2 separate regions of the Homo sapiens genome follow, and region 2 is linked to region 1. The links come from fine-mapping of genetic effects on gene expression. A gene starts in region 1. The other region holds a variant in brackets. All regions are shown on one strand. Distances are between the middles of the regions. Region 1 holds the start of NADK (NAD kinase). Region 2 overlaps NADK (NAD kinase).

Region 1 (15,941 bases):
AACCCAGGAGGCGGTGCTTGCAGCGAGCCGATATCGCGCCATGGCACTCCAGCTTGGGCAACAGAGCGAGACTCCGTCTCAAAAAAAAAACAAAAAACAAAAAACAAACTAGCCGCGTGTGGTGGCGCGTGCCTGTAATTCCAGCTGCTGGAGAGGGTGAGGCATGAGAATTCCTTGAACCTGGGAGGCAGAGGCTGCAGTGAGCTGAGATCGTGCCACTGCACTCTAACCTGGGCGACAGAGCAAGACTCCATCTCAAATGAAAAGAAAAAAAAAAAAAGAAAAAAGACATACCAGTGTTTTATTCAAATACATGAAAAATTCGGCCAGACACGGTGGCTCACACCTGTAATCCCAGCATTTTGGGAAGCCGAGGTGGGTGGATCATTTGAGGTCAGGAGTTTGAGACCAGCCTGACCAACACAGTGAAACCCTGTCTCTACTAAAAATACAAAAAAAGGGCTGGGAGCAGTGGCTCTTGCCTGTAATCCCAGCACTCAAAACAAAAACAAAAACAAAAACAAAAACAAAAACAAAAACAAAAAAATTAGCCTGGAGTGGTGGTGGGCACCTGTAACTCCAGCTATGCAGGAGGCTGAGGAAGGAGAACAGGAGAATTGCTGGAACCTATGAGGTGGAGGGTGCAGTGAGCCGAGATCGCACCACTCACTCCAGCCTGGGTGACAGAGTGAGACTCTGCCTCAATAAAAAGAAAAAAGAAAAAAAGAAAAAAAAACCATGAAAAATTCAATGAAAACCAGAACCTACAAAAACATGTCTGGTATAACTACTCCTATTGAGGACTATACTAGAGGCCACAGCCAGTGCAATAACATAAGAAAAAAATAAAAGGTACAGTGACAGAAAAGGTTTGGCATGAAATGTAGGTCTGTTAAACAAAATAAGAAAAGGAACAAGTGAAGTTGTACTTGCAGATGACATGACATTTCTATGTAGAAAAACAAATAAGTGAGTTTATTAGCAAGGTTTCAGAAGGCAAATTCAATACACAAAAATCGCCTGTATTTCTATATACTAGCAATAGACAACAGGAAATTGAGACCATCCTGGCTAACATGGTGAAACTCTGTCTCTACTAAAAATACAAAAAATTAGCCGGGCATGGTGGCGGGTGCCTGTAGTCCCAGCTACTCAAGAGGCTGAGGCAGGAGAATGGTGTGAACCCAGGAGGCAGAGCTTGCAGTGAGCGGAGATCGCACCACTGCACCCCAGCCTGGGTGACAGAGAGAGACTCTGTCTCAAAATAATAATAATAATAACAACAATATAATTTACAGCTGGGTGTGGTGGCTCACGCCTGTAATCCCAACACTGGGAGGCCGAGGTGGGTGGGGATCACCTGAGGTCAGGAGTTTGTGACTAGCCTGACCAACATGGTGAAACCCTGTCTCTACTAAATATAAAAAATTAGGCAGGCATGGTAGCACATGCCTGTAATCCCAGCTATTTGGGAGGCTGAGGCAGGAGAATCACTTGAACCTGAGAGGTGGAGGTTGCAGTAAGCCGAGATTGCACTGCAGCCTTGGTAACAAGAGTGAGATTTCATCTTATAAAAAAAAAAAAAATATATATATATATATATATACACACACACACACATATATTATTAAAAATATATATCTTATTAAAATATATATACATATATATGATCTATAATAGCATTAAAAATATAAAATATGTGGGGATATATTTGGCAAAAGACATGTCAGAACTGCACACTGAAAACTACAAAATATTGCTGACAGAGATGAAAGGAAACCTAAATAAATGGAGAGACATACCATGTTCATGGATTGGAGGACTCAATATTGAGATCTTAGTTCTCATCAAATTGATCTGCAAATGTTACCCAAACACAACCATCAAAAGCCAAGCAGGCTTCTCTAAAGGAAAGGACAAGCTGATAAAATTCACATGAAAATGTAAAGTATCTAGACCAGCTGAAAAAACTTTGAACAAGAACAAACGCGAAGGGCTAAGTTCATGACTTGTTGAAAAACTACGGGAACCAGACAGCGTGGCAGCATCAAGACGGACATACACATCAAGGAAACAGGACGGCCAGCCCAAAGGTAGACGCCACAGACCCTCACACACATGCAGTCCATGAATTTTTGACAGGTGCTGAGGTGATTCAACATGAGGAGGATCATCTTTTCACCTAATAGTTCTGAACAACTGGACAGCCACGTCTAAAAGAACGAAGCCCAACCACTTCCTCATACTACATACAAATATTAACTCAGAATGGATTATAGACCTAAATGTGAGGACTAAAACTATGAAACTTTTTAGAAGAAAGCACTGGAAATTTTTTTTTTTTTGTCTTTTTGTGAGACAGGATCTCCCACTGTTGCCCAGGCTGGAGTACAGTGGTGTGATCTCAGCTCACTGCAGCCTCAACCTTCCAGGCTCAAGCAATCCTCCCACTTCAGCCTCCCAAGTAGCTGGGATTACAGGCATGCACCACCACACCTGGAAATTTTTTTTTTTTTTTGGTGGAGATGGGGTCTCCCTATGTTGCACAGGCTGGTTTCAAACTCCTGGTCTCAAGTGATCCTCCCACCTTGGCCTTCCAAAGTGTTGGGATTACAGGCGTGAGCCACCTCACCCAGCTGGAAAAAGTCTTAGTGGTGTTTAAAATCTTTTATACTTAATGGAACCCTGAATTTTTTTTTTTTTTCCTGTTTTAGGCAGGGTCTTACTCTGTCCCCAGGCTGGAGTACAGTGATGTAATCATGGTTCACTGTAGCCTCTACCTACTGTGCTCAGACAATCTTCCCACCTCAGCCTCCTGAGTACCAGGGACTACAAGCATGCACCACCATGCCTGACTAATTTTTGTATTTTTTTGTAGAGATGAGGTTTTGCCATGTTGCCCAGGCTGACCTCGAACTCCTGGGCTCAAGCAATCTCTCTGCCTCAGCATCATAATGTGCTTGGATTACAGGCATGAGCCACTGTGCCTAGCCAAAACACTGTTAAGAAAATTAAAATACAGTTGGGTGTGGTGGCTTGTGCCTGTAATCCCAGCACTTTGGGAGGCCGAGGCGGGAGGATCGCTTGAGTCCAGGAGTTCAAGACCAGTTCTGTGTCTTGCTAGTGGTTATATAATTAATTTAAGAGGTAACACTGCATAGAGCCATACACACATGTAAAACTGGTGAAACCTGAATAAGGTCTATAGTTTAGTTAGCAGTATTTCAATTCCCTGGTTTTGATATTGTACTATGGAGGTGTATGGAGGTGTAAGATGTTAACACAAGGGCCGGGCATGGTGGCTCATGCCTGTAATCCCAGCACTTTCGGAGGCCAAGGCGGGCGGATCACCTGAGGTCAGGAGTTTGAGACCAGCCTGACCAACATGCAGAAACCGCGTTTCTACTAAAAATACAAAAAATCAGCCCGGCGTGGTGGCGCATGCCTGTAATCCCAGCCACTCGGGAGGCTGAGGCAGGAGAATCACTTGAACCTGGGAGGGGGAGGTTGCGGTGAGCTGAGATCACGCCATTGCACTCCAGCCTGGGCAACAAGAGCCAAACTCCATCTCAAAAAAAAAAAAAAAAAGATGTTAACACAGAGGGAGCTGGTGAAGGGCACAGGGGTCTCTCTGTACTATTTTTACAACTTCCTATGAATTAGTCTATGATTATTTTTTTTTTCCCCAGACGAAGTCTCGCTCTTGTCCCCCATGTTGGAGTGCAATGGCGCAATCTTGGCTCACTGCAACATCTGCCTCCAGGGTTCAAGCAATTCTCCTGCCTCAGCCTCCTGAGTAGCTGGGATTACAGGTGCCCGCCGCCACACCCGGCTAATTTTTGTATTTTAAGTAGAGATGGGGTTTCACCATGTTGACCAGGTTGGTCCTCAAACTCCTGACCTCAGGTGATCCGCCCGCCTCGGCCTCCCAAAGTGCTGGGATTACAGGTGTGAGCCACCGCACCCAGCCAATTATTTCAAAATAAACAGTTAATAAAGGTCAGACACAGTGGCTCACACTTGTAATCCCAGCACTTTGGGAGGCCGAAGCAGGGGAATCACCTGAAGCCAGGAATTGGAGACCAGCCTGGGCAACACAGCAAGACCCCGTCTCTACAAAAACATTAATAAAAAATAAACAAATCAAAATCACAAAATGTTAAAAAAAATGTATTATTACTGCTACATTACCTAGAAGCTCTATTTTGTGTGTGTGTGTGTGTGTGTGTGTGTGTGTGTGTGTGTGTGTGTGTGTGTGTGAGAGAGAGAGAGAAATAGAGATATTGAGAGACTGAGAGGTAGGGTCTTGCTCTGTCACCTAAGCTGGAGTGCAGTGGTGCAATTACAGCTTACTGCAGCCTCAATCTCCCAGGCTTAAGGGATCCTCCCATGTAGCTGAGACTACAGGCATGAGCCACTATGTCCAGCTAATTTTTAAATTTTTTGTAGAGACAGGGTCTCGCTACCTTGAACGGGCTGACCTTGAACTCCTGGGCTCTGGTGGCCCTCCTGTGTTGACCTCCCAAAGCATTGGGATTACAGGCATGAGCCACTGCACCCAGCCTAGAAGCTCTGTTCATATTTATTTGCGAAGATCAATTTGATGACTAAGCAGTAAACTAATTTATAAAATAATATTAAATATTAAAACCAACTTTAAACAATTATCTTCACCTATGTATGTGTGTGTGTGTATATATATACACACACACACACACATATATATATATTTAACAAGTATCTCCAATACCACAACCAGTGTATTTTTTGTTTTTTTGAGATGGAGCTTCGCTGATGTTGTCCAGGCTGGAGTGCAGTGGCGCGATCTCGGCTCACCGCAAACTCTGCCTCCCAGGTTCAAGCAATTCTCCTGCCTCAGCTTCCCAAGTAGCTGGGACTACAGGTGTGCGCCACCACGCCCAGCTAATTTTGTATTTTTAGTGGAGACCTGCCTCTTAATTCTCCAACATGGAGGGGTTTCTCCATGTTGGTCAGGCTGGTCTCAAACTCTCAACCTCAGATGATCCGCCCGCCTTGGCCTCCCAAAGTGCTGGGATTGCAGGCGTCGCCACCGCGCACGGCCACCATTATGCCTCGGCCTCCCACAGTGCTGGGATTACGGGCGTGGCCACTGCGCGCGGCCACCATTGTGCCTCGGCCTCCCACAGTGCTGGGATTGCAGGCGTGGCCACCGTGCGCGGTCACCACTGTATTTTTTGACAAGGGTGAGTCAGGACTGACACTTAATTCATTTGTTTGATATATTAACTGCTTTAAAAGGACACACAATGCTAGCTGCACCAAAGTGCATTCAAATTCCTCATAGCATGAATCTAATTTTAAAAAACCTTTGTAGGGCGGGCATGGTGGCTCACGACTGTAATCCCAGCATTTTGGGAGGCCGAGGCGGGCAGATCACGACATCAGGAGTTCAACACCAGCCTGGCCAAGATGGTGAAACTCCGTCTCTACTAAAAATACAAAAAAAATTAGCTGGGCGCGGTGGCAGGCGCCTGTCATCCCAGCTACTCAGGAGGCCGAGGCAGGAGAATCGCTTGAACCCAGGCGGCAGAGGTTGCAGTGAGCTGAGATCACGCCACTGCCCTCCAGCCTGGGGGACAGAGTGAGACTCCGCCTCAAAGAAAAAAAAAAAATCCTCTGTATTAGGAAGTTTTATTAGAAAAAAATACTAGAGCACAATAAGAAAATATTCATAACGAACTTATACAAAGTAGCAAGGAAAACATTAAGATGCCAATAAATAAATGTGCAAAGAACATGAACAAAAGTCACACACACACAAATACAAACATAATACACGAGTTCGTTCCCATGTAAGAACTCAATCAATATTTGTTGCAAGACTAAATGAAAAAGGAAAATTTATTTAGTGACAGAAATGGGGAAACATTCAACCTCAACCCTGAGTGGGAAAAAACTTACTGCCCACTAAATTACCCATCTCATCTCACCCCGGTAAATAATGCCCAGTGCTGGCATGCACACTGGCAGTATACAAACTGAGAAAGACTTTCTGGAAAGTGCTACAGCCATGTGACCACAGGGCTTCACCCTGTGACCTCATTAAACCTAAGCAGATTACAGGTCTGAAGGGGGCTTTCTTTAGATGTGGCTCCACCTACTTAGGGGCAGATGAAGAAAACAGGGGTCTGGGCAGTTCTGAATGGGAAGGCCAGGCATCACCTCCCTCTTCAGTTGCACAAAGTGTGCGTGGCATCCTCACATCCCATCTGCCTCAATTTCGCTTTTTCTCTGAACACTTTTCACCATCTGTCTGAAGCACACACACACATTTTATTCACTTCCCCATTCCCATGCATGAATGCTAGGACCTTTGCAATTGTGGGCCAGGAAAGATTGCAAATGATAAGCCACCAGCACAGAGAGTAGAAATGAAATCCTGGGGTTACAAGCTAAAGCATTACTGACACCCACTTGTCCAGAACGGCTGAAGCTGGGCGGTGACTGTCAACAGGTATATACGGACTAGAAAGTGGAGCTGCTGGAGGAGGCCCTGTACCTTCCTGCCATGACACAGCCTCCCCCCAAGTGCTGGGCTTGTGTGCTCAACACTCCCTCTTGCTGTCATCCTACCACACCTGCAGACTGGAGGTAATCCAGATGCAAGGCCGTCGAGTCCCGCAAACACCCACCTGCCTCTTAATTTTCCAAGTGAGACCTACATTTCCTCAAGCGTGAAGCTCAATAAAATCAACTATTGTTTTCCGTTTTCATCACGAGCGCCACTTTCCCCCTATTTGTTCACCGCCTCCACTCCACAAGAACTGCTCTTGACTTGGCCAACTTTCTGGGACACCCTCACTACAAGGATTTATGAGTCAAACAGGTTTTTGTGCTAGCCTGGAAATCTAACTGCTGACAGCAGTTGTTTCAAGAAGAAAATGCTGTTTTGGAACCAAACAGCAGGCTGCCAACTGAAACAACATAAACCCACCTCCAAGTTCAAATGAAACAAACAAACAAAAAGACTGGTCCAAGTGAGGCAAGCTGTGGTGGCTCACACCTGTAATCCCAGCACTTTGGGAGGCCAAGGTGGGCTGATCACGAGGTCAGGAGTTCGAGACAAGCCTGGCCAACACAGTGAAACCCGTCTCTACTAAAAATACAAAAATTAGCTGAGCGTGGTGGTGGGCGCCTGTAATCCCAGCTACTCAGGAGGCTGAGGCAGGAAAATCACTTGAACCCGGGAGGTGGAGGTTGCAGTGAGCCGAGATTGTGCCACTGCACTCCAGCCTGGGCAACAGAGCTAGACTCTGTCTTAAAAAAAAAAAAAAAAAAAAAAGACTGGTCAAAGTGGCTTACGTCTGTAAGATCAGCACTTTGGGAAGTGGAGGCAGGAGGATCTCTTGAGGCCAGGAGGTTGAGACTAGCCTGGACAACACAGTGAGACTCTATCTCTACAAAAAATTTTATAAATCAGCTAGGTGTGGTGGTGCAGGCCTGTAATCCCAGCTACTCAGGAGGCTGAGGTGGGAGGATCAATTGAGCCCAGGAATTTGAGGTTACAGTGAGCTATAATCATGCCACCATAAACACGCCTGGAGGACAGAGTGAGGCCCTGTTTCTAACATACACACACATATACACACAGAAACATCTCGAGAGGACACCTCCAAATGATGAAGCTATTTTGTTGGGTACTGCGGTGGCACCTGTGATTCCTCAAGTAGCTTGGAATCAGCGTGCTAACACCATAAAGTGGCTGCAAAAGTCCCAGTGAAGTCACTGCTGAGAGCAAACAGGCCTTACAGAGAAGTTCCAAGGGGACAGGAAATTTCCAGAGGCTTGAGAGGACAATGTTCAGGGGAATAAGTACTTGAAGGGAATTATCTAACAAGGTGTTAAAGTAACTAGCTTCTTAGACAAGATGACATCAGGAGGAAAAAAAAACTTATTAAGGCAAACATGTCAGTTTCAGGCCAACTAAGGCTGTCAGAGAGACATGGAACACAAGAAGAGAAGAGTTTTGAAATGTATTCCCATCAAGAGCCAAGAATAATGAACTTTTGAATGTAAAACTTAGTGTGTTCCAAAACAAGAAAGGAAAAATAACTTGTTACTCGGAATCGAAGCCAAAAGGAATCTCATTGCTTGGGGAGGAGGGATGGGAGGGTGGGGGTGGTCCTTGGCCTGGGAAGGAAAACTCCACCAGGCCTTCGGAGCTGGGCACGCCCTGTTCCCACAATTAAGAAAAAAAACGACGACCTAGAGCTCAAGGCCGGTGCTGACATCTGACCTACTGGATGGCAGCCGCCTGTAGGAACATCACCATAGACTATTGGAATTTTCTGGCAAGTACTGGGCACTAAATCAGAGATGTGTTTTTAGAGAATTCCATGCCAATACTGCTGTATAGAATCTTTTATTCATACTTTCCCACTAGGTTTGGGCCCCTCTAAGCTTTCACGAGTCAAAGACCCCTCCTGCTTGCTGAAACCACCCACGGAAGGCCGGACACCGAGGACCTGGCCGCCCAAGCAGAGGCGACTGACAAGCGCGGTCCGGGCTGGACGGCCCCACCTTCCCCGCCCGGGAGAGCCAGGCCGGACAGCGGCCTCCCTCAGACCCGTCCCCAAGGCCGAGCCTCGCCCTGGGCCGTGCTGGTGCCCCATTCGGGACGGAGCGGTGGCCCGTCAGCACTTCCACGGCCTCCTCAGCAGGCCAGATGGGCAGGGCCGGCCTGGTGTCTCCCCGCCTGGCCGCGCGCTCGCGGGCAGCGATGACCCCAGGCAGCGGGCGACCCCAGGCGGACGGCAGGCCGGGTCTGCTCACTCACCGTTCGCTGCCGCGGGCGCCTGCGGGGGCGTCTACATGCCGGACCGAGCCCGCAGGCCCCGCCGCCGCGCCGCCGCCAGCCGTCGCTACCTGGCCCTTGGCGCCCTGGCCGCCTGTTGCCCCATGGCCGCCCGGACCCCGGCGCCGGCGCCGCCGAGCAGCAATGCGCCGCGCCCGCCCACTGCGCAGGCGCACCCGCCACGCATGCGCGCTGCCGCGCACGTGGGGCGTCCCGCGCGTCTGCCGGGTCCCACCGGCGCCGGGACACCCCGCGCGGGCGGGAGGCGGCGGGCGTGGCGGGAAAGAGGCGGGCGGTGGGGAAGAGGGGCGAATCGCGGTGGAGAGCAGTGACCAGGGAGTGGAGGCGGGCAGCGGGGACAGGGGCGGGCGTCCGCGACTCGGGTAGGCGGGGGTCGGCGCCCCGAGGAGGGCGGCCCCCGGCTCCCGTCCCCACTCACCTGCCGCGTCCGGAGGGCGCCCCCGGGTCCGCCCGCCACGTCTACGCCTAGGCGCCCCCGACATTGTGATCCCAGCCCGGCGTCCCGCCCCCAACTCACCGCCACCGCGGGCGGGACCTCCCGGACCACGTGGGCCGGCTCAGGGGAGTGCAGGTGCCCCGCGAGAGCTGGCCCCGCCCGCCGCCGCTTCCCTAATTACCGGGCTGTGACACGGTGTGGGCCGAGCCGGATTTGGGAACCGAAACTTAGAGCAGCTGCGGCAGCGCTGCGCTCCCTCGGGGCTGTCCGTCGGGGCTGGGAGGGCGGCCCTGCGCCTGGGGGAACCGCGATCGGCCTCACGCCCACCTCTAGCGGCCAGGTGCGCCTTGCACGCCCACGAACGTCCTCAGAGGTCTACGCTTGGGATCCCAAGGCTGGCAGTGGAGGGAGGACCCGGTGGCCTGGGGCACCTCTAGGGGGACCAGGGAGCCGTGTTTTGCGCACCCCACAGGCTGGAGGACTCGGGGAGTTGGGGGAGGAGGCCAAAGCCACAGGAGCGGACTTTGTAGTGTTTGTTGGAACTGCGGGTCCCACCCAGCCCGCACTTGCTGAACTGGTGGCTGCTCATCAGCGCCTTCAGGCCTCAAATATCCCAATAATGTGCCCTATACCCAGTTCTCAGCTCTCGAGTCACTGTCAGGTAAACTGGCAATGCACGACCAGCTGCTCTAACCTGCTGGTCCCCCAGGTGCCAGACATTGTTTTGTTTTTCTGAGATAGTGTCTCATTCGTCCCCCAGGCCGGAGTCCAGTGGCGGGCTCACGGCTCACTGCAGCCTTGACCTCTCAGGTGCAAGCGATCCTTCCACTTCAGCTTCCCTAGTAGTTGGGACTACAAGTAGGTCCCGCCACACTCGACTACTTCATTCATATATATATATATTTGTGTGTGTGTGTGTGTGTGTGTGTAGAGATGAGGTTTTACCATTTTGCCCAGGCTGGGTCTCAAACTTCACCCGCCTCGGCCTCCCAAAGTACTAGGATTATAGGCGTAAGCCACTGCACCTGGCCCAGCCATTGTTTTCTGAGGTTCAGTCCCTGTCTATACTTTCTGTGTGATCACCTGGCCCAGGGTCGGTGTGGACCTGAGTCCTCTGCAGCCCTTCCCCACACCCGCATACCTGCTCTCTGGTCAGGACTCCTGGGACTTGAATCCAGAGACACGGAACACGGCCTGGCCAAGTCTTCCTGAAAAACACAGCTCTTCAGTTCAGGACCACAGTGAAGTACAGGGCACCAAGGGTGACTGGAAAGGGAAGCAAGGATCATGAGAACTTGGGGGATTTCTTAAGCTCTGTAACTTCTCCCGGGGTTATTTTGCAAACCCAACTGTTTCAAAGTGACCACCAGCCACACCCACAGAAGCGGCCTTGAGCTGCCCAGTTCTTTTTCTTTGGCGGGGGGAGAGGGGGCGGATAAGATCATTAACATAATAATGCGTGAGCTGAGTTTTTGCATATGATCATTAGCATAATAATGCTTGATCTAGATGGCGCACCCACAAGCCAGGCACTGAGCCAGGCCTCAGTAGAATCTTCTAGAGTGGAGGCAGTCAACTGCTTCTGCAGAGGCAACCAGTGACTGTCGTGGGCCCCAGGTCACACAGCAGGTGCCCTTCGCGTGTCCCGCTGTGTAGGGAGCTCCAGCAGCTGCCCCGTCTGTGGCATGAAAACCCTTTGTCTACCCTGGGCCTGGGCACTGCCTGCAGGAGAGCTTCCCTGTTTCAGAGATGAGAAAACAAAACCAGGGCTGTGGTTTCCTTCAGCTGACAGGTTGTGCAATTTCTCAGGGCAGGCCCCGGATATGACCTTGAAGATTCAGGGGCCAAGATCTCACACCCACACCTCACCCCAGGCCTGGCCAGCAATAACTAAGACCAAAGCTGGGAAGGCTCCTTAGGGCACCCAGAATGGTCCAAGAGGCAGCTTTGCTTGGGCTGAGACCAAAGGGAAGAGATGTTCCCGCAGCAGGAACAGAAGGGTCCAGGGCTATCATGGGGGCTTCTGCCAGATGGTGCACAGGAAGAGGCTCTGCCTTCAAGGGATTGGGGGTCAGGAAAGGCCCCCTCCTGCCTGACCAGGCCCCAGGGATGGGGCAGCAGTGGGTGGCATCCCCTGCCCTGACCTTCCTCAGCCCCAGGGCTGCCATTGCTCAAGGTGGCAGTGGACTCTTCACATAATTTCGCATTGTTTTTTGTATTCTTTAAGGATGGCTCCCATGTTGTTTACTTCAGAACCCCCAAAACCTGGACCCATCCTCTTCTGGGGGTCAGCAGGGATGGGGAGGGTGGAGGGAGAAGGGGGAACGGAGGCCATGAGGGATGGAGCAGGATGGGGTGCACTGGGGTACAGGTTGCTCCTGGGGAGGCTGAGGAGAGAGGGAAGTTGGCTTCAGGTGGCCTGGCTCCAGTAAACTGGGTGAACGAAGTCTGCCCAGAACCCACAAGGGTAAGTGGCCTGGAGCCTGGGGAAAGGATGACTGGGAAGGACTGAGGCTCCCAGTGAAGGACATCAGTATGGCAGGCTATCTGGTCATCTCATCCAGCCTCCAGCCAGCACCCGGCACAGGCCCTGCCCAGGCTGAAAGCCAGGATAGGGGCGTCTGCAGGGGCCAGTGTCTGGATCTGCTCACATGACAGTCTTCTGTTTGGCCTGGTTTGGGGCGAGGGGCAACCTCTTTCCCAGGATGCCAGCCATGTGCAGGGCATACTGAGGATTCAACAGTGGAAACCAAAGTCCATCAGGTGTTCACCTTCTAGTGGGGCAGACGGGCAAGAAGCAGAATTGGTGGGGGCAGGCAGGGGTTGGGGTACAGTTTTGACCAAGGTACCCAGGGACAAGTGTTTCTCTCTCAGGCAGAGGCAGCAGCAAGGACCAGGACCCTGAAGTGGTGAGAGCCTAGAGTGGGCGGGGATCATCAACAGTAACCACCTGGCAGGACTGGGACTCCCTGTGTCCTCACAAGATCCTTACCAAGCAGCCTAGTATAAGACGAAGTCTCGCTCTGTAGCTCAGGCTGGAGTGTAGTGGCATGATCTCAGCTCACTGCAAGCTCCGCCTCCCGGGTTCAAGCCATTCTCCTGCCTCAGCCTCCAGAGCTGGAGTTACAGGCGCACACCACTGAACCCGGCTCATTTTTTGTATTTTTAGCAGAGACGGGGTTTCATCATGTTGGCCAGGCTGGTCTTGAACTCCTGATCTCAGGTAATCCATCCACCTCGGCCTCCCAAAGTGCTGGGATTACAGGCGTGAGCCACAGCGCCCGGCCACAGCCTGGTACGTTTATTGTCCACATTTTTCACGCGGGGGCCAGAGGCACAGAGAGGCCAAGTAACTTGCTCAAGGTCACCCAGCGAGGAAAGGGAGCTGGGGGGTGGGGGTAGGGGACAGGGCGAGGCCAGAGAGTAGTGGGAGGGGCCGAGGCGGCCTTTCCCGGGAGCGCTCGGTTCCCGGCCGGCCCTTCTATTGGCCCCAGTCACTCAGGCTCCCAGGTCCGGCTCGGGGGGGAGCGGGGGGCCGCGCCAGGCCGCTGAAGTGTCCCCGTTTCGCGTGGGCAGAGCGCGCCTCCCCACGCATCCTGCTGAGGGCCAGCCTCTGCTAGGTGCGTGACACGGAGGGGACAGAACGGAAACCTTGTCCTGCTCAAGTGTGGACGTGCGTGCCACGTGCTAGAGTAAAATTGAGGTGGGGAACCTCCATCCCTGGGACATGGAGCACAGGGGCGACCCCGCGCCGCTTGGTCAAAGGAGGTCCGAGGCCCTGCAGGAACAGCCCACAGCCGGAGCGAGCTGCAGGTCACTCCACTGCCTGTGTCCACCTGCGACAGGTGCGCCCGCGCAAGCGGGGCGGAGCCAGGTGACCCGGACACAGGAAGCGCGCCAGGGGCCCCCACACCGCGGAGCTGCTGGCGACAAAGGGCGCTGCTCCTGCATAGGCCAGGCTAATGCAATCTACAAACTAGATTTCTGTGCCTACAGTTTGAAAATGATTGCAGTTCACTCAGCCAGTGTGGAATTATCCTCCTCTTTCCACACTGCCTTAGTCAGTGCCGCTGTCCAAGTGCACGTTGTTGGCGCCCGTTTTCATTTCCTGTTTTGCTAAGAAAGTGGGGCAGTGGCCTCCATGCCCGCCAAGGGACAGGCAGGCCGCCCCAGGGAGGGGTCCCCCTCAGCTCTGGCTCTTCCAGGCCAAAGCCAAGGGGAAGGGGCACCAGAGGGTCCCAGGTCCCACATGCCAGCTCCCTCAGTCTGCGGGGTGCCAGGCTAGGACACAGAAGCCAACAGGAATCCCCAAAGGGAGGAAGTGGAGTCGGGGGTGTGGCAGCCGTGCTGAGATGCTCGGCCTTTATTTACTCTGGGCAGGGACCAAGATAGGCCACTGCAGGCCGGCACCCTGCCTCCCGGCTGCTGGAGCCCCTCCCTCCCAGGAACTGCCAGCCAGGAAAGAGCCTCAGGTACTCTCTGCATTTAATTTTTAATTTTTTTTTTCTTTTGACGCCTCCAAGACAAGTTCAACTCTCTAGTGATTTTAAGTGGGGTTTTTGTAAGACAGCTGGCAGGGTTAGGGCTTGTGAAGAACTTGCATGTCTATGAAGAACTGATTTATTTCAGGGAAAAGTGGGGGATGACGAAGCCAGGCGAGCCCACCCCGTTCAGCCTGCCAATCACACCCACTTCAGCAGCCTAAAACAGCACCAGGTCACCCCACCAGGGAGACAACGCCATAGTGTCACTTGCAGTGCTGGCAGATGGGCACCCTTGGTGGCGTCAGAAACACACCCAGCACCTTGCCTGGAGCAGGGCGGCTGGGCCCTGCTCCGTGAATCCCAAGTGCCCTATGGGAGCCTCTCCGGCCAGGGACTGCCAGCCTAGAGGAGGGGCTGCTGGGTTCTCTGGTGCCCAGGGGAGGAGGGGGCCTACAGGTACTTTCTGCTGAGAGCCTTCTTCACTTACTAGGAAAAAGTTTGGCTGGGTGCGGTGGCTCGGCCTGTAATCCCAGCACTTTGGGAGGCTGAGGAGGGCGGATGACAAGGTCAGGAGATGGAGACCATCCTGGCTAAGATGGTGAAACCCCGTCTCTACTAAAAATACAAAAATTAGCCGGGTGTGGTGGTGGGCACCTGTAGACCCAGCTACTCGGAAGGTTGAGCCAGGAGAATGGCGTGAACCCAGGAGGCAGAGCTTGCAGTGAGCCGAGATCGCGCCACTGCACTCCAGCCTGGGCAAGAGCGAGACTCCATCTCAAAAAACAACAACAAATTAGCCGGGCATCTGGGCCAGGCGCGGTGGCTCACACCTGTAACCCCAGCACTTTGGGAGGCTGATGTGGGTGGATCACAAGGTCAGGAGATCGAGACCATCCTGGCAAACATGGTGAAACCCTGTCTCTACTAAAAATACAAAAAATTAGCTGGGCATGGTAGCAGGCGCCTGTAATCCCAGCTACTTAGGAGGCTGAGGCAGGAGAATCGCTTGAACCTGGGAGGTGGAGGTTGCAGTGAGCTGAGATCGCACCATTGCACTCCAGCCTGGGCAAAAAAGAGCGAAACTCCGTCTCAAAAAAAAAAAAAAAAAAAAATTAGCGGGGCGTCGTGGTACGTGCCTGTAATCCCAGCTACTTGGGAGGCTGAGGCAGGAGAATCACTTGAACCCAGAAGGCAGAAGTTGCAGTGAGCTGAGATAGCGCCACTGCACTCCAGCCTGGGCCACAGAGCGAGACTCCACATCAAGGGAGAAAAAAAAAAAAAGTTCCAGCTGCTGGAGCCATGGGAATTAAAAAATTACTTTTTTTTTTTTTTTGAGAGGCAGTCTTGCTCTCTCACCCAGGCTGGAGTGCAGTGGTGCGATCTTGGCTCACTGCAAACTCCGCCTTCCCGGGTTCATGCCATTCTCCTGCCTCAGCCTCCAGAGTAGCTGTGATTACAGGCGTGTGCCACCATGCCCAGCTAATTTTGTATTGCCTATTTAAGATTTTAAAAAATCACCAGTTTGGAAAGCAGGGAAGTGGATGGTTCTGGAGCCTAGGAGCGGCTATTTGGGACACACACAGCCATGGTTTTCCACACTACCATGGCCAGTGCTCATTTTTTTCTTACTAGATGCAGTTCTTTATATTCAGACCAAGAGGAACACTCAGTTCAGTCCCAAGGAAAGCTAGTCTCTGGAGTAACATCCTCAGACATTCTAAGGGAGGGAAATGGCAGAGGAGAAAGGCAAGGCAGCCGCCTGTGGAGACTCCCACGGTGCTGTGGGCAAGGCCTATGCCTGGGGAGGGGTCTGGGCGATGGCAGGTGGACCTCCCTGCTCTGCTGGCCTGTGAGGTGGAGCTTCCCAGGAACCCCTCCGAGGAGCCAATGCGCCACTCATGGATTCTGTGACGTGGTGGCGGCCATGGCACCGCCTGGCATGAGCAGGCCCGTCAGACCTCACAGCAACAGGGACAGCTTAGGGAAGCGGGCGCGTTGCAAACTGGAAGTGGACCCGTAAATAATCACCACACCAAAGTCCCTCATGTCAAACTGCTTTATTACATCTTAAATAACAGTACAGTTTAATATAGTATCTATCTTGCATCCAGCTTCCTTGCAGTACACTGACTTTAAAATTAAATACAAAAGGTGGAAAGGGGTA
Region 2 (15,941 bases), 20 kb before region 1:
TTTGGAGGAAGCTTCCTGTTGCCCAGAGCGCACTGCCTGTCTCTGAGTGTATGTGTCTCAGTGGCGTCCATGTGTATTTTTCTCTGTGTGTATCTGTGTGAGTCTGTGTGTGTGGTGTGTTTGTGTCTGAGTGTGTGGTGTTAGCGTGTCTCAGTGGCGTCCATGCATATTTTTCTGTGTGGTGTGTCTGTTTGTGTGTGTGTGAATCTACGTGGGTGTTTGTCCATCTTTTTGTCTGGCCTCCTGTCCCCTCTGCACAGAGCAGCTGGGTGGGGATGCTGGTCCTGGGGGCTTGTCAGCAGGATGTGGGCGTGGGGCAGCCCTGGGTGAGGCCTGAGTACAGGCCCCAGGTGCCTCCTGCACAGGGGTGGCTGAGCCAGCTCCTCTGTGGCTCCCGGGTCCCCACCGCCGGTCACTGGGCACCACCTGTCCTGGCCACCCACTCCTGCCCACCCTGCTCTCCGCAGGGGCCTCCTTCCTCTTTCAGCTGTGCGCCCTGGTTGTGGAGGCTCCTAAGGAGGTTGTGGCCTCGGTTTACCACCTGCCTTGGCTCCTTGGTGTTGCCAGACCCTGAAGGCAGCCCATGCCCTGGCTGAGATCCTTCTGGGGCGGGATGTGCTGGAAGCAGCTGAACCACGTGGTGATGTACCAGCTCCTGCTGTCCCCTACATCCCCAGCACCGCCAGCCTTCCCTGGGCTCCTCCGGCCGGCTCCTCTACCCTGTACCCGCCCCACCCTGCTACCACCCCCCAACCAGACTTCCAGCTCCAGGCAGGGTCGCAGCCTCCTGGGCTCCCAGCAGGACAGGCCTCACCCAGACCCCGCAGGAGCCATGGGACTTGGGCTGGGTCTTTGGGCCTGGCTGCAGCCCCTTTGGACCTGACCTGAGGAGACACCCTGGCTGTGGGAGGCAGGGTGGGGGTGCCGGGCCCAGCACAGAGGTGCCCAGGGTGCAGGCTGGCACTGGCCCGGCAGGGACCGTGGATGCCGCCGTTTCAGGCTCGAAAAGGTTTCCATGCCCCAGAGCCTGAGCCCGGCAGCCCCCGAGGATGTCTTGGGGACTCTGTGCTCCCCAAAGCCGAGAAGGTTAGGCTTGACCCACAGCCTCTTCCAGGCCGGGGAGGCAGAGGCGCTCCAGGTCGGTAGGGCGGGGCCCACAGCCCAGGGTTTCACGTCCCCAAAACGGGGCAGGGTGCTGGAGGCGCAGGTGTCCACAGGGTGGTCGTTTTGGTCTCTCCTGGACTTGCACGCGTGTAGTGCAGACTGGCTGCCGGCAAAGCCCTGAGCCACATTCATCTGGGCCTTGTTAGGACAACAGGGACGGTGCGGGGTGGGGGGGTTGCGGGGCGCAGGACCACGTCAGTGGAGGGAGGGAGGCCGATATCGGTGCCCAGGCTGGGCCCAGGGGCCAGCGGGTCCTCACCTGGCTTGTGGCTGCCCCTGTTAGGCAGCCCGGATGGAGGGGCTCTTCCAGCCCTGCTGGCCCCGGGAATGCAGGGACTCAATTCCCCCTGGTCTCAGTGGCTCTTCCGGGAGCAACACAGCCTGCCCGAGTCGACACCACCCCTCGGGTTTGAGTCCCTTCTGTCTACCCCTACCCCCGCCAGGGCACTGCCCCCTTGCCCGGAAGAGGCAGCGGCACCCCCAGCCCCTTGGGGAGGATGCCCTGCCGGCCCCACACTCGGTGGATGGGCATTTTGGGGCTAGGATTTAATGGGGGTGACCCTGCCCGACCCCTCTATGTTGGTTCCACGGCGTCAGAAGAAAGCTGTTATTAACCCAGCTTATTTTCTACAAGTCTTGTTTATTGAAAGGATCTGAAAAGCGTAATAAGGCTTTCAATGACATTTAATACATTTTCAAGAAATTAATATGAAACATTAAAATTTACTTCAAAAATCCAAAGTTTTCTAGATCATTCCCATCTCACGCTGCTTTAGAGGTCAGTTCACACCTTCTGTGTTCAGATGAGCGGCTGGAATTCTGAACACTGCCGTCTTCCAGCCCTAACGCTGGGCGCTGGTCCCTCTCTCCTAAGCCCACGGCTGGGCTTCCCCTGTGCCCAGGGTCATGGCGGACTTCAAGCCAGGCCGGCTGCCCAGAATCACACTCAGGGTTTTTGGACGCTCAAGTCCACAGATGCTGAGGTGCCCAGACGAGGGTGAGCAGGGAGACACATGCCTCGGAGAACGTGCCCAGGCTGGGCCAGGCGGCTGCGGGAAGCTCCTCACGGGCAGAGGAGAACGTCTTGTGCCTTCCTTATCGATCTCCAGCAGATGAGGGCAACTTCGTGTGCAAAACTCAGAGAGCAGTTACTCAAAAAAAAGACACCCGGGCAGCAGTAACCAGGACACCAGGGTCCGACCACGGCCTCCACACACCTGTGCCCGTGGAAGACGCGGGCGCCGGGGTAGGCAGCATCCACGTGCTCCACAGCTGCCGGTGCTGGGCAGGCTGGAGACTCACGGGAGAGGCAGGAGGAGAATCAGCGTGTTGAGTCCCTCGCTGTGTTAGTGTGAAAAATTCTCATTACAGTTGCAAATAAAAGGGATCACGATCACTAGCCCCGGAAACCCTCATCTCCCGGACCATCAGGATCGCACTGAACAGAATGGTCCCCTAATGGTCCCTGAGGACAGCGTCTTGCAGAACATAAATGTAAACATTGAATGGCAGACGACTCCCTTCCCCTTGAAATCTTCACAAAAGTGTGTACGAGAAAGTATGTACATCAGCACTTCAGAAAGTTTAAAAGAGTCTCTAAAAAGTATATACAGGATTTAAACTACCTTCCTGGGAGCAGAAGCTACGTGAGGAATGTGTGGGTCGCTGGCGATGCCAGCCCCCTTCCCGCTGAGTGTCCCAGACTCAGTGCTGGCCTCAAGCGGGGAGGGCTGGATGGCAGGGGACGCATCCAACCCTCTCCAGAAACTGAGCAGAACAAAACCGCCTTGCCAGCCACTGGCAAGACCATGCTTTCAATGGCGCCTCCGCCAGGGGCTTCCCTGCAGAAGTTTTAGGGGAAGAGGTGCAGGTCAAGGGGAAAAGCATGGCAGCTCAAGGAAGGTTTTTGGCTGAGACATTTATTATCAACATTGAAGGACAGGTCGAGTCATTCTGACTCCTCTGAATTTCAACCGACTGATTTGCGGAAAAATATCCTGGCATGGAAATTGCGGCAGCTGGAGGCCGCGCTCCAGGGACCCACCGCGGGGTGTCAGCAGGACAGAAGCACTCCCAGCCCATTTCTCACGCTTCTTTAGAAATGCAAAAAAAGTCAGACATTTTAAAAAAACAGCTGATCTGGACAAAAGGCAGACCCAGGCTCTAACCCAGCTACAGAAAGGAAGTGGCCGTGCCACTGAGACAGGCGGTCACAGACACACGCAGATTGGTCTGTCCCCAGAGGGCGCTTGGAGGGCAGCGGAAGGATTCGGGCCTGGATAGGGGCTTGACCTAGCCCTCCTCCTCCTCCTCCTCCTCCTCCTCGAAGTGGGCTTGCTTCTTCCGGACGTTCCAATGCAGGCACTGGGCGAGGCTCTCAAACCAGTCGCTCACGGGGTCCCGCACACAGATGGAGGGGAGCGGGTAGCATGAGGTAGTGATGCTGATGCTGGGACGGGAGAGCAGCAGCCTGAGCCAGGGCTTCCAGAAAGGCCCACCCCCGGCCAAGAACCCTTCCTCCCTCCCTCCCTGGGAATGGCCGGGACTCTTTTCCTGTGGGGCCGGGCAGCCCCTCCCCGAGGCAGGCTTGAGCAGTGCCCCATGGGTGCTGGGACAGAGCCATCCCAGGTCCTGGAGGGGACGGTGCAGGGAACTGACAAACTCTGCCCCAGGGCCCTCAGGGGTGAGGTCCCAGGAGGTGGGTGGGGGTGGGCAGCAGTGCCAGGGGGGACACCCTCAGGCCTCTGCTGGGGCCAGGCCTGCATGTGCCACCGTATGCGACCCGCTGCCCCCAGGACGGGTGCCCCGACTGTGATGCTGCAAGACCCAGGGACTCAGGCCCTGTGGTGCCCTAGGGGACAAGCTGTGTCTACAGGCCAACCGCAAGAGGGCAGGCGCTGCCTGGCCCGGGGAGGAGGTTGGCAGGCAGCGCCCAGCCCGGCATGCAGCCCACACCTGTCTCCATGGCGGATCTCTTGTCTCTTCCGTCCATCAAAGGACACCCATGCTGTGTTCCTTGCTTCAGGTGACAGCATGATCTGAGGGTCAAGCAGGGAGAGGTGTGGGCCCCCAGCTGTGGGGAGGACGCTTCTAGGCACCCACCCCTGAGTGCTCGCCAGAGGTCGAAGGTTGGGCAGCTCTGACCCTGCCTTGCGGACGGTGCAGTGCACGTCCTACAGGCACCGGCCCAGCTCAGCACCGCCAGAGACCAACAATGGCAGAAAGCCCCTCAGACCCGGGCCCTGGGCACCTTGATGGACAGAACTCGGGCACCAGCAAGGGAAGGCTTGCATCTGAGGGGGCACAGGATGGCCCTAGGATGACGAGGCCGCGTCTGAGGCTGGAGCCAGCATGGCAGAGCGGGGTGCTAGGTCCCGGCTTTGTGTTGCACGGGGTCAAATGACTCACAAACCGGAAAAGGAGTGTCGTTGGCTCTGACCTTCAGCTCGACCCCTGCGGGGACCACGATGGGCCGGAAGGACAGCGAGTGGGGGCAGATGGGCGTGATCATGATGGCCGGCACGTTGGGGTGGATCATGGAGGCCCCGGCCGCGGCCGCATACGCCGTGCTGCCCGTCGGGGTGGACACGATCACTCCTGACAGGGACAGGCGCAGGCGTCACTCCCGCCCGAGGGACGCTCAGGGCCCCAGGACAGTGCTGCGGGCCTTACCGTCGCCCTGCACCGTGGTGATGAGGTGTCCGTCCAGGTAGACATCCACATTGGACAGGTAGGAGGAGGGGCCTCTGTCAATCACCACCTCATTCAGGACCTGGAGGGGCGACAGCATTGCACACTCAGGGCGGGGGATGCCGCACGGCTCGCAGACACCCTCCGTCTCACCCAGCCGGGCTCTCCGGAAGGTCCTCATCCCTGGGACCGAAGTCGCCCCACCCTGGGCCCCTCACCGAGGCCGAGGCGCCTCCACTCACCTGGTACTGCATGGCCTGCTTCCCGACATCCATGTCCAGGCCTGCAGCCTGCGAGCCGTTCTCACCCAGCCCATTGTGCACGGCCGTCTTCTTCCCCCGGAGCTCCTTCACCACCCTGACCTTCAGCCGACTCCGGAGAACAACAGCTGCGTTCCCTGAGGTCCAGCAGGAGTCAGAGGGCATGCATCAGGGAAGTCAGTGGGGTCAGGGGCCCCACCCCAGGGAGGCCAGTGGGAGTCAGAGGGCTCTTTCTTCTCCCAAGTTGACACACTTCTGTGCCTTTTTCTTTTTATTTTGAGATGGAGTCTCACTCTGTCACCCAGGCTGGAATGCAGTGGTGTGATCTTGGCTCACTGCAACCTCTGCCTCCCAGGTTCAAGTGATTCTCCTGCCTCAGCCTCCCAAGTAGCTGGAACTACGGGTGCGCACCACCACGCCCAGCTAATTTTTGTATTTTTAGTAGAGACGGGGTTTCACCGTGTTGGCCAGGATGGTCTCATCTCTTGACCTCGTGATCCGCCCGCCTCGACCTCCCACAGTGCTGGGATGACAGGCGTGAGCCACCGCGCCCGGCCGACACTTCTGTGCCTTCTGAGAGTGAGAATCAGCTCACTTCTGCCCAACACACATGGCAGCTTCAACCTGTGATCTGCTGAAACTTCTCAGTGTCAGTAAAAGGTTTGAACCACTCAAGATTTAGAAATCCCTGAATCTTGAAACCTTTAAATGTTGCTCCATGCATCATTAAATGAAAATAAACCCCCCGCAAGCAAGCGAGACAGCAGCGCCATGATCAGAGCTCCTGTGGGCTCCAGAACATTCCAACTCACCCTCTATCACCTGAGTAACTTGGGACTGAAAGTTCTCAAAGCTGAATGGGGTCAGGAAGCCCAGGGAGCCCAGGTGGAAGGCCATGACCGGAGGGACGCTGCCCTGTGAGCCGACGGAGAGGTCACTCAGTGCCCACGCCGTGCACCCCCGCACCACCCAGCTTTCCAGCAGCACCTCAGGAGGGACCCAGCTCTGTGGGGACAGCACCCCGACCCTCTGCAGGAGGGACTGGCCATGTGGACAAGCGGAGGGGGACGTCGCAGGCCAGGGTGGGCCGGGCCACCAGGGCCAAGGTTGGTGTGGGGAGCTGGTGAGGAACAAAGGTGGCAGGGCTGAGCGGCCCCCTGGGCACGGAGGGCTGGGGGAGCTGGCGAGGGCGGGTGGGAGGCAGCCTTGGGGTCGGAGCCTCGCGCCCCACAGGTGCTAATGGGGAGATGGGGAGAAAAGCAGGGCGGGCTGCGGGCATTTCCGGTGTCACCAACATGCAGTGGGCCAAGGGCAGAGCCAGGGTCCCCCACACAGCGTGGCCCTACAGCCCCAGGGGAGAGCTGTGCTGCTGAGAAACCAGGAAGAGGAGCTCAAGGGAGGCCCAGAGGGGATGGGCCAGTAGGCGAGGTCGTTTCCCAGGACCCACCACCCTGCGCCACTCCCTGCTGTCCCAGGCGGGCGCTGGCCACCCCCAGCCGTAGCACTGTGTCCACACTGCCCCTGGCCCCACCGTCGCACCCCACCGGGCTGCCACCATGGGCCTCAGTGCTGGCCGCTCTAGGTGACTGCTCTCGTATAAAGGGGTGAAAAGCAATGGAAGCCATGCTTGTGAGCCCCTCGTTACGCAGCACCTAGACTAGAACCTGGTGTGGGTCTGGAAATGTCAGCGCTTCACCTGGAAAAGCGAGGAAGCGTACAGCAGCGTCCCGTCTCCCCCCAGGCAGATGATGAAGTCTATCTGATTGGAAATGTCATCATAATCTAGGAAACACAAAGCAAAACCAAGAAGAGGCTGTCACACAGTGGCCCCTCTGTGGCGCAGTGCGCAGACACCAATGACAAGGGCAACAGTGCCAGAAGCTTCCAATGGGGCGGGGAACTGTGCTGGAGAAACCAAGGACAGAGCTGCTGACAGCCCACCTTCTCGAAAGGTACAGAATTTCTTCTTCACTGCCCCAAAGCTTTCATCGCTGGCGATGGCAGGGTCTTCTAGCACTTTCTTTTCCACATACACGATCATGTTCTCCTGGAAGCAAAGTGCCAACCTGCTCATTCCACCTGCAGACCCCACCCTCCTGCAGGGAGGTTCCCGACTCACGGGCGCTGTGGTCAGAGACCTGGCATCGTGGCCTGCATGCCCGCCCCCCCACGCTCACGCTGAAACTTCATC[A/G]CCAACGCGCCAGGAGGAAGCAGGACCTTTAAGAGATGACTGGGCGGAGGGGGCTCCCTCTCAGGAATTGACTAAGGCTGTTATTTCAGGAGTGGCTTTCCTGGGCGCCGCAACCCCCACGCCTGCTCTTCTGAAGAGAAGACACAGCAGGAAGGCCCACGTCAGATGTGGCCCCTTGATCTCGGACTTCCCGGCCTCCAGGGCCACGAGCCCACCAGCTCATTGTTGGTCACCCAGTCTGGTGCTTGCCATGGCGGCACACACAAACCCAGACACCCGGCAGATCCCCACTCAGTCCCCAGTTCCAGACAAGCAGCCGTTGCCCAGCACTTGAGGTGGTTCCCATGGTCTCACGGGGCGGTGATGTGGATGGAGGCCCCCCCAACTCCATGTGCACCCCAGGCCCCCTTCCCCCCTGCCCCGCGTGCCTCCATGAGGTGCGTGCAGAGCTCCTTGAACGGCTGCAGTAGGCTGGCATCTCTCATCTTCTTGATGACAAGGACGCTCTTTGGGGACTTGTTCCACGTCAGCCGCTGGCTCGCGGGGTCCTGAATGTGCCTTTAGGGGAGGAGAAAAGAGTTCACACCAGCTGCGATCTCCCTCTTGCGGAAAAGGTGTATGACTTAGAAAATAAAAAAAAAAATCTTTAAAAAGGTGTTTTCACCTCCCAGGGAAACGTGCTCGGTGGCCACGGGCTCACAGGGCCTAGGGTCGCGCCACAGAGACAGGGTCAGGGGTCAGTAGGGTCCGGAGTGACCACCTCTCACCTGCTTGGCCCATCACACGCAGGCTCAGGCCCACAACCCCCACCCGGGCACCACGCTGACCCAAGTGCACGCACCACAGCCCTTCCCAGCCCCCGGCCACTTGCCTGCCTGGCTCCTCAGTGACGCTGGTGGGGCAGAAATGACCACGAAAGCCCATGGCTGGGCCACTCTTTGCTTGATGCCCTCCTCAGGCCCCCACGAAAACCCAAACCAGTTGACATGGTGACTCTGTCCCTAGGATCCTCTGCACACAGTTTCTGGCCCCACGGGAGCCCAGGACCCCTCAAGGACCCGCTTCCCCCCCTGCACACAGCTCACTACCTCCCTGCATGAACGGACTTTAACCTCACTCACTCTCACAGTAAAAATCACAGGTTTAAAAGTCCGTGGCAGCCCTGACACAGCCACCCGCGCTTTGCTGGCTCTGACCCCGACCACTGTGCCCGGTGTTTCTCCACAGGCAGGGCCCACCCCGGTGGGATTCCCATTACCACGTTAGTCACAGAAAACATCCCAGCCCAGAACCGGGAACACACACCACGGAGCCTGCTCCTGTTCCCAGAAGCCAAGGGAGGGCGCAGCGGGGCTGGCCACCGTCGTCAGCGCTCACCGCCTATCCTCAGCCCCAAAGGACAAGTTCTTATACCACCGCGCCAGCCAGCTAGTTCCAAGTTGCCCAATCGAGAAAGCTGCTGCCTGCCATGCCTCTTCCCAGCAGTGACTTCCCCAGGAGTGTGACCGTCCCACTAACACCCCCAGAACCACAACACAGACGCCGATGGCAGCCACAGGGCCACAGACCTTAGCCCATCGCTTGTGACCTTCGGAAGCTGGTCAGCACTCACCCTGTGCAGGCATTACTGGGAGGCGTGGGGTCACTCATGCCATCCCCTATGAGCTCAGCACCTGCCGGGTCACACATGTGGCTCGCGAGGTAGCCCCTGCCTGCTGGGAGCCGGCCAGTGTGTCCACAGCATCCAGGCCACGCTTGGCGAACACGCGGCCGCCCCATCGGTATGGTCCTGACTGTGCGCCCACACTAGAAGCCTAAGCTCTTCATACTCAAAACTCAAAGCAAAACACAATTGTGATGAGACTTGGTAAAGTTGTTGTAAAAGCAACTAAGTCAAAAGAGCTTCCTACACTTATAAAAATCAAACAAAACAAAACAGTTTCCTCATTGGTCACATGGTCCTCCTGCCTAATCCCTTCTGAAAAAAAGTCCTCAGTTCAGCAGCAAAGAGGCCACACTTCAGCTCCCTGCTCCTAACTGAGCCGGGTGGGACCAAGCCCTCTGTTCCCGTGGCCTCAGACCTGGCCAAGTACCCAGCCTCCAGCCTCGCCCCAGCACTGCGCCAGCCACCGCTCTGGCCCGCGGAACCGGCTGGGCCCCAGGGAAGGCACCCTCAGGCCACAGTCAGGTGGAAGGGCGTTCCCTGCCTCCTAGCCCGCTGCGTCACTCTGCTTGGCTCCGGCCCAAGGGCGTGCAGGTGGCTCACGGTCCTCCGGCCTGGTCAGCCAGCAAAGCCCCCGCCCTGCACACGGCTCCCCCTGCTCTCCCCGCCAACAGTCACCACTGACCCAGTGGCCTGGCCTACACCCATTCCAGCCCTGAGGCTCAGCTGAGCCCAGCCAGAGCCACCAGCAGCGGCGTCGTACACCGGCCCAGGCACCCACCGCTGTGTGTGACCACAAACCAGCGCCTCGACCTCTTCCTGGGTCACCTGCAAAGCAGGACACCAGCCCTTGCAGGCACGCACGGCTGTGGGTACTGCACGGAGAGGGCAGGGGGTGGCGTGAAGCTTGCAGGCACACACGGCTGTGGGTACTGCACGGAGAGGGCAGGGGGTGGCGTGAAGCCAGCATGGCCACAGCCTGGCCCGCCTGGCCAGCTCCTACTGAGACTGTCTCACACATGGGTGGCCACGCACACTGTGACACACGGGCACTCACGCACCTCCACAACACAGGCCCACCAATTCCCTGGACAACAAAACAGGAAGCGGGTGCCCTCCTCACCAGGCGCCCCCACAGGGTCTTGCTCTGGACTATCAGGGAAGACGGAAGTTCAGATGCATGGGAAGCCCTGCCCCTCCACAGCGGGGATGGGAAGCGGGAGGTTATGATCCCAGAGACACAGAGCCCAGAGGGGGCGTGCTCCCATGGGGGTGCCGAGAAAGCTGCATGCCCCTCAAGGCTGCCCCACAAACCCACCGCTTCCTCCTGCGGGGCTGTCTGGCCTCGGGCAGCTCGGGGACCACTGAGTACGCCCTGGTCTGAGGGCTGAGGCAGAACATGCACCTGTCCGGTGACCCCGCCCTGGCCCGAGTGACTGACGGCTGGTGAAGGCAGCAGCTGAGATGCGAGTGACAAAGGAGTGGCTCTGCCAGGACCAGGAAGTGCAGGGAGGGCACCAGGCAGCGGGGGAGAGGCCCGGTGGGGTGCCAGGGACACAGCAAGCACAGGATGGCGGGACAGAGCCACGGCGGGGCCGGGAGGGCAGTGGAGCACTCTGGGTCACCCACGTGGCTGCTGTGCAGGGAAGGGATGGTGAGGCCGCGGCGAGTGGTCAGGAGTCCACACAGCGGAGGGCAGCCGGGCAATAGTGCAGGGGAGCTGCTTGGATATTTTGGGATCAAAGTGACAGAATCTGCAGATGGACTGGATGAGGGAAAGCAAACAGGGGTCGGGCCCCCCGCCTCAGGCATTTGGCAGCAGTGACAGGTCACAGACACTCCGGGAACCAGTGGCACTGAAAGGGCTGGGCCTCAAAAGCACAAGTGCGAGTCACTTCCATCCTAAGGGGCTCCGTCAGCGTCTGGAGCAGCAAGGCCAACCCCCGTCCTGCCTGGGACGCACGCTGCCGCGGGGCCCACACTTTGCAGAGCAGCTCCTCGGATGACTCCCCCGTGGCTCCTGGGACCTGAACTTCGGTGACAGCCCAGGGCTGGGGCCTCCGTCCCTGCTGTGCGCCCCCAGCCTCCATGGCACCGGTGCCTGTCAGCAAAGGGCCATGCAGTGGCCGCCCCCGTATCACACGGCCGCATTGCGCTTTCTGGTCAACAGTCCCCAGCAGCCTGCGCGCTGGAACACTCGGCCCTTCCGCATGGTCCTCCCTTGCAGAAAGTGAAGCATCCATGACTCCGTGAAGGAGGAGGCCCTGAAGAGAGCCCGTTCTGCACAGAGGAAGAGAGCCCGTTCTGCACAGAGGCCTGAGAGCTGAGGCACCAGTCCCAGAAGCAAAGGCTTCTCTGGGGAAGAGGCAATGAGGATGTCTACCAGGTGCAGAATACGACTCTCAGGGCTGGCTGGGAGCTCACTTTTTTCTCTGGAGACAGTCTTGCTCTGTCGCCCAGGCGGAATGCACTTTGATAATCACAGCTCCCTGCAATCTCAACCTCCCAGGTTCAGGTGATCCTCCCGCCCCAGCCTCCTTGGCAACTGGGACTACAGGTGTGTGCAACGATGCCTGCTAATTTTTGTATTTTTCTGAGTCTGAGTCTTGCTCTGTCGCCCAGGCTGGAGTGCAATGGTGCGATCTTCGGCTTACTGCAACATCTGCCTCCCGGGTTCAAGCAGTTCTCTGTCTCAGCCTCCCAAGTAGCTGGGATTATAGGCACGCGCCACCATGCTTGGCTAATTTTTGTACTTTTAGTAGAGATGGGGTTTCACCATATTGGCCAGGCTGGTCTTGAACTCCTGACCTCGTGATCCGCCCCCCTTGGCCTCCCAAAGTGCTGGGATTACAGGTGTGAGCCACCGCAGCTGACCAATTTTTGTGTTTTTTGTAGGGATGGGCTTTCACCATGTTGCCCGGGCTGGTCTCAAACTCCTGGGCCCAAGTGATCTGCCTGCTTCGGACTCCCACAGTGCTGGGACTGCAGGTGTGAGCCACTGCGCCCAGCCTGGATTATAATTCTTTACACATAAAACACAGATATCAGATCGATCACTGTTGCGTTTTTCCCATGACACTATGACGGGCCTCCAGGCAGAATGTGTTGACAAACTGAACCATCAAATAGCAAACGCAACCCACCCCAGAATTCTCACTCACTCTTAAAGAAACAAAAAGGCAGCCCTGAGGATCTCATGTGGAAGCCGCCACACCCACGGGCTGTGACCCGGTCTCCAGGCCCCGGCTCGCCTGCCGTCCACTTTCTCAAAGCCACTGGAAAAGCCACAGCTGGGGAGCCCCCGCTCGGATGCCTGCACTCAGGGGGTTCAGGGAGGACGCCCATGTGGCTTTTTGTTTAAATGACCTAAACATGTACTTCTCACATGAAGTGCTAGAATCTTCCTCAACACAGCGATCCCACAACTCCACACACATCCCGAGGACTCCCCCATCCCATGGCCCCCGGCACTCACATGATGGTCTAGGGGTTCTCTCCCTTCCAAGAACCCCCCGTCCTGGGGCCCCAGCACTCACATGATGGTCTGGGGGTTCTGCAGCACACAGGCCTTTGGTCCAAAAGTGGTCACCGGGCATGGCCCATGAAGAGAGCGTGTCCTCCTGTGGGGAGAGGGCAGTGTCAGAGCCACCAGGGCCTGAAACCAGACATGCAGTGACAGACACAGATACAGAGGAGGTTACACGGTAAGGCATACATGCAATTTGAAAGATGCCAACTCCATCTGCCCAGCAGCCACACAATAGCCCTTGGAAGGTTCTGCCCAGGTCCATGGCTGCACTGGAGCGGCACCTGTGAGGAGCACGCATGCCCACGCGCCGCTCAGATCATGACCCAAGCCGGGGAGAGCTTCAGCCCAAACAAGGAAAATGCCAGGGCCAGGGCCAGCCTGGGATCAGAATTCCTCAGTGTCTCCAGGACCCCTCTCTAGATCTGCATTTGGGACTCAAAACCTGAGACAACATCTCATCTCTAAATCGTCTAGATTAAAATTCTAGCACAAATGTTCACTCTGAACTCATGTCAATAAAAAAGACGTAGGCCGGGCGCAGTGGCTCACACTTGTAATCTCAGCACTTCAGGAGGCTGAGGTGGGTGGATCACGTGAGGTCAGGAGTTTGAGACCAGCCTGGCCAACATGGTGAAACCCCCATCCTTACTAAAAAAAGAAAAATTAGCCAGGCCTGGTGGCGTGTGCCTGCAGTCCGAGCTACTCAGGAGGCTGAGGCAAGAGAACTGCTTGAACCCAGGAGGTGGTGGTTGCAGTGAGCCGAGATCGAGCCACTGTACTCCAGCCTGGCTGAAAAAAGTGAAACTCTGTCTCAAAATGAATGAATGAATGAATGAATGAATGAATGAATAAAAGACGCCAGATGAACGGCTCAACAACTTTCCTAGTGATTTAAACATGGCCAGGTCACAGTTAAATCACCCAGCCAGGGGCTGTGGCAGCCGCACGCGTCCTGGGGAGAATGCTGTCAGGACCGCTGTGCTCCTCAGGGTCCAGCACTGAGGCTGCCCTCGTCCTAGGTGCCCGGGAGCCTCCCAGTCCCTTCACAAACTCAGAAAACTTGCACACAGCTGGCCAGGCAACGGCCCAACAAAATCCTCAAGTCCCAATGCAGAAGAACGGCCTTCCGCTGCCTCGCAGGGCCAGACAACCCCAGGAGAGCCGTGGTGCCCTGAGGGCTGCTCCACAGGTGACACAGGCGTGGCCATCAGTGGTCACGGACTTGTTTACCTCAGCCTTTTAAAAATTGGTAAGTACAGGCCGGGTGCAGTGACTCACGCCTGTAATCCCAGCACTTTGGGAGGCCAAGGCAGGCGGATCACGAGGCAGGAGATTGAGACCATCCTGGCTAACACGGTGAAACCCTGTCTCTACACAAAAATACAAAAAATTAGCCGGGCGTTGTGGCTCACGCCTGTAATCCCAGCACTTTGGGAGGCTGAGGTGGGCGGATCACCTCAAGTCAGGTGTTCGAGACCAGCCTGGCCAACATGGTGAAATCCCATCTCTACTAAAAATACAAAAATTAGACAGGCGTGGTGGCATATGCCTGTAATCCCAGCTACTCAGGAGGCTGAGGCAGGAGAATCACTTGAACTCGGGAGGCAGAGCTTGCAGTGAGCCTAGATCACACCACTGCACTCCAGCCTGGGCGACAGAGCAAGACTCCATCTCAAAAAAAAAAAAAAAAAGAAGAAGAAAACGAAGTACATTACAAAAGAATTTTACTTACTTACGAACTGAAAAGATTATTGCGGAAAACAATGTTTCTCGAAGTGGGTGTTGGGATTTAATGTTTCCTTCCCAAGGACAGGCTATGCTTGGGCGTATTTGGCTACCTCCTCCCCCACCTCACCCTGAAGGCGCCTGTCACTCACTATGGAGGCGACCTCTGACCCAGGGCTGCTGTCATCAGGTTCAGAATGCAACAGAAATGGTGCATTATGCCAAAGAACCCACAGGAAAAAAAAATAAAACCCCAAAGCAATTCTGTTCACGCAGTCACTGCGCTGGGGTGGCCTGGAGGTACAGGACAACGACCCCCACTGACAACGAGGCAACGAGGCATCTGAGAAAGGCTGAGTGGTGACGTGGTGCCTGCGGGATGAAGGCAGCCACCAGCGCTCGTAGCCTCCTGGCTCAGGCAGCGACTCTGTAGACAGAAAACGTGGGAGTAGCCTGTTTCTCCACGGCTGCCACCACGTCAGAGGCGCTACAGGCTCTCCCATCTCACTGGGTAAGACAACATGCTTTCTAAGACTACTTTTCACCAAAAAGCCCCCCTTGCATTTGATAGTCGTGATCCTTGTTAGGCAGCGCCGGCTCTGGCAAGCTTCCACCTAAAACTCACCACATTTACCATCACCAGAACCGAGAGCACCATCCCCAGGCACCATCACAGCTGTGCTTGTGCGGCCACCGTCATGCAAAGCCCGGGGCGCTGTTGCCCAAGCAGCATTGTGCAAGGGTGAGCGCTGTGGGCACTCTTGGCACAGGAGGGAGCCACTTGCCCAACATGTGAGAGGGCTGGGCCCGCCCAAGGCCACGCTCATAACTCTGCCTCCACCAGCCCTGCTCACAGTGCAGAACCCCCCAGCCTTCGCCTCTCAAAACAAGCAGAGCCAAGAGGGATGTCCCCTCACACCCCAGTGACTTCTGTAGAGCAAATGTTTCCAGGCCAGGCACAGTGGCTTGCACCGGTAATCCCAGCACTTTGGGAGGCTGAGACGGGCAGATCACCTGACGTCAGGGGTTCAAGACCAGCCTGGCCAACATGGTGAAACCCCGTCTCTACAAAAATACAAAAATTAGCCGGGCATGGTGGTGCACGCCTGTAATCCCAGCTTCTTGGGAGGATGAGGCAGGAGAATCACTTGAACCTGGGAGGCGGAGGTTGCAGTGAGCCAAGATTGCGCCACTGCACTCCAGCTTGGGGGACAGAGCGAGACTCAGTCTCAAAAAAAAGTTTCCTCTCCAAGTGCGCTTCAGTCTAACATCAAGGGTCAGCGTAGGCGCCAGTTAGATGGTTCTGTGCTGATACAGACAGATAGAGAAACACGGTGGCACCCTGTGCCTGTGCTGGCACCTGGGAACGTGCGCCAGGCAGGTGTCCATGGGCCAGGATCCCCCTTCAAGGGCACAGCTTCACCTGGGCAAGGACCCAGCCTCACCTTCCGGATGCATCGACGCAGACTACTCAGGAGAATTCTTCATAATCGTTTTAAGAAAGAATATTATGAAATCAGACGAGAAAAAAAAGAGGAACCATCCCTCCCAGTTGTACCTGAACTCCTTGGTGCTCCCCAGGGCGGGCGAGGCAGACAGGCTGCGAGACTTGGCCCGGCCCCGGATGGGGTGGTTGTAACTCCAGGTCTCATCGCCGTGGCAGGCCGAGCAGCAGTAAGCAGCCGCGTCTGGACTCAATTCCTTATTCATGGTCATTTT

What was found. PIP is the estimated chance that this variant, and not a neighbour inherited with it, causes the effect.
Region 2: its variant is fine-mapped to the expression of NADK in whole blood (INTERVAL, PIP above 0.99).

Annotation. Positions count from the first base shown.
Region 1 is chr1:1,769,471-1,785,411 of GRCh38, forward strand. NADK (NAD kinase) reads right to left here and starts at 9,000. Exons shown (of 12, transcript NM_023018.5): 1 at 8,819-9,000. GNB1 (G protein subunit beta 1) reads right to left here. Exons shown (of 12, transcript NM_002074.5): 12 at 15,816-15,941. RefSeq lists enhancers at 4,638-5,139, 10,776-10,945, 10,956-11,015, 11,026-11,095, 11,106-11,205 and 1 more and silencers at 8,516-9,715, 13,300-13,594.
Region 2 is chr1:1,749,448-1,765,388 of GRCh38, forward strand. NADK (NAD kinase) reads right to left here. Exons shown (of 12, transcript NM_023018.5): 2 at 15,781-15,941; 3 at 12,505-12,588; 4 at 7,734-7,863; 5 at 7,056-7,161; 6 at 6,811-6,896; 7 at 5,927-6,029; 8 at 5,097-5,251; 9 at 4,837-4,936; 10 at 4,604-4,761; 11 at 4,120-4,202; 12 at 1,785-3,613. The coding sequence ends at 3,457. It overlaps LOC112268218 (a long non-coding RNA gene), which reads left to right. Exons shown (of 2, transcript XR_002958243.2): 2 at 468-2,295. Among named protein-coding and RNA genes, the nearest start is that of NADK, 21 kb to the right of the region's middle. RefSeq lists enhancers at 3,677-4,206, 10,547-11,504. The variant A/G (reference allele first, on the strand shown) is at 7,306.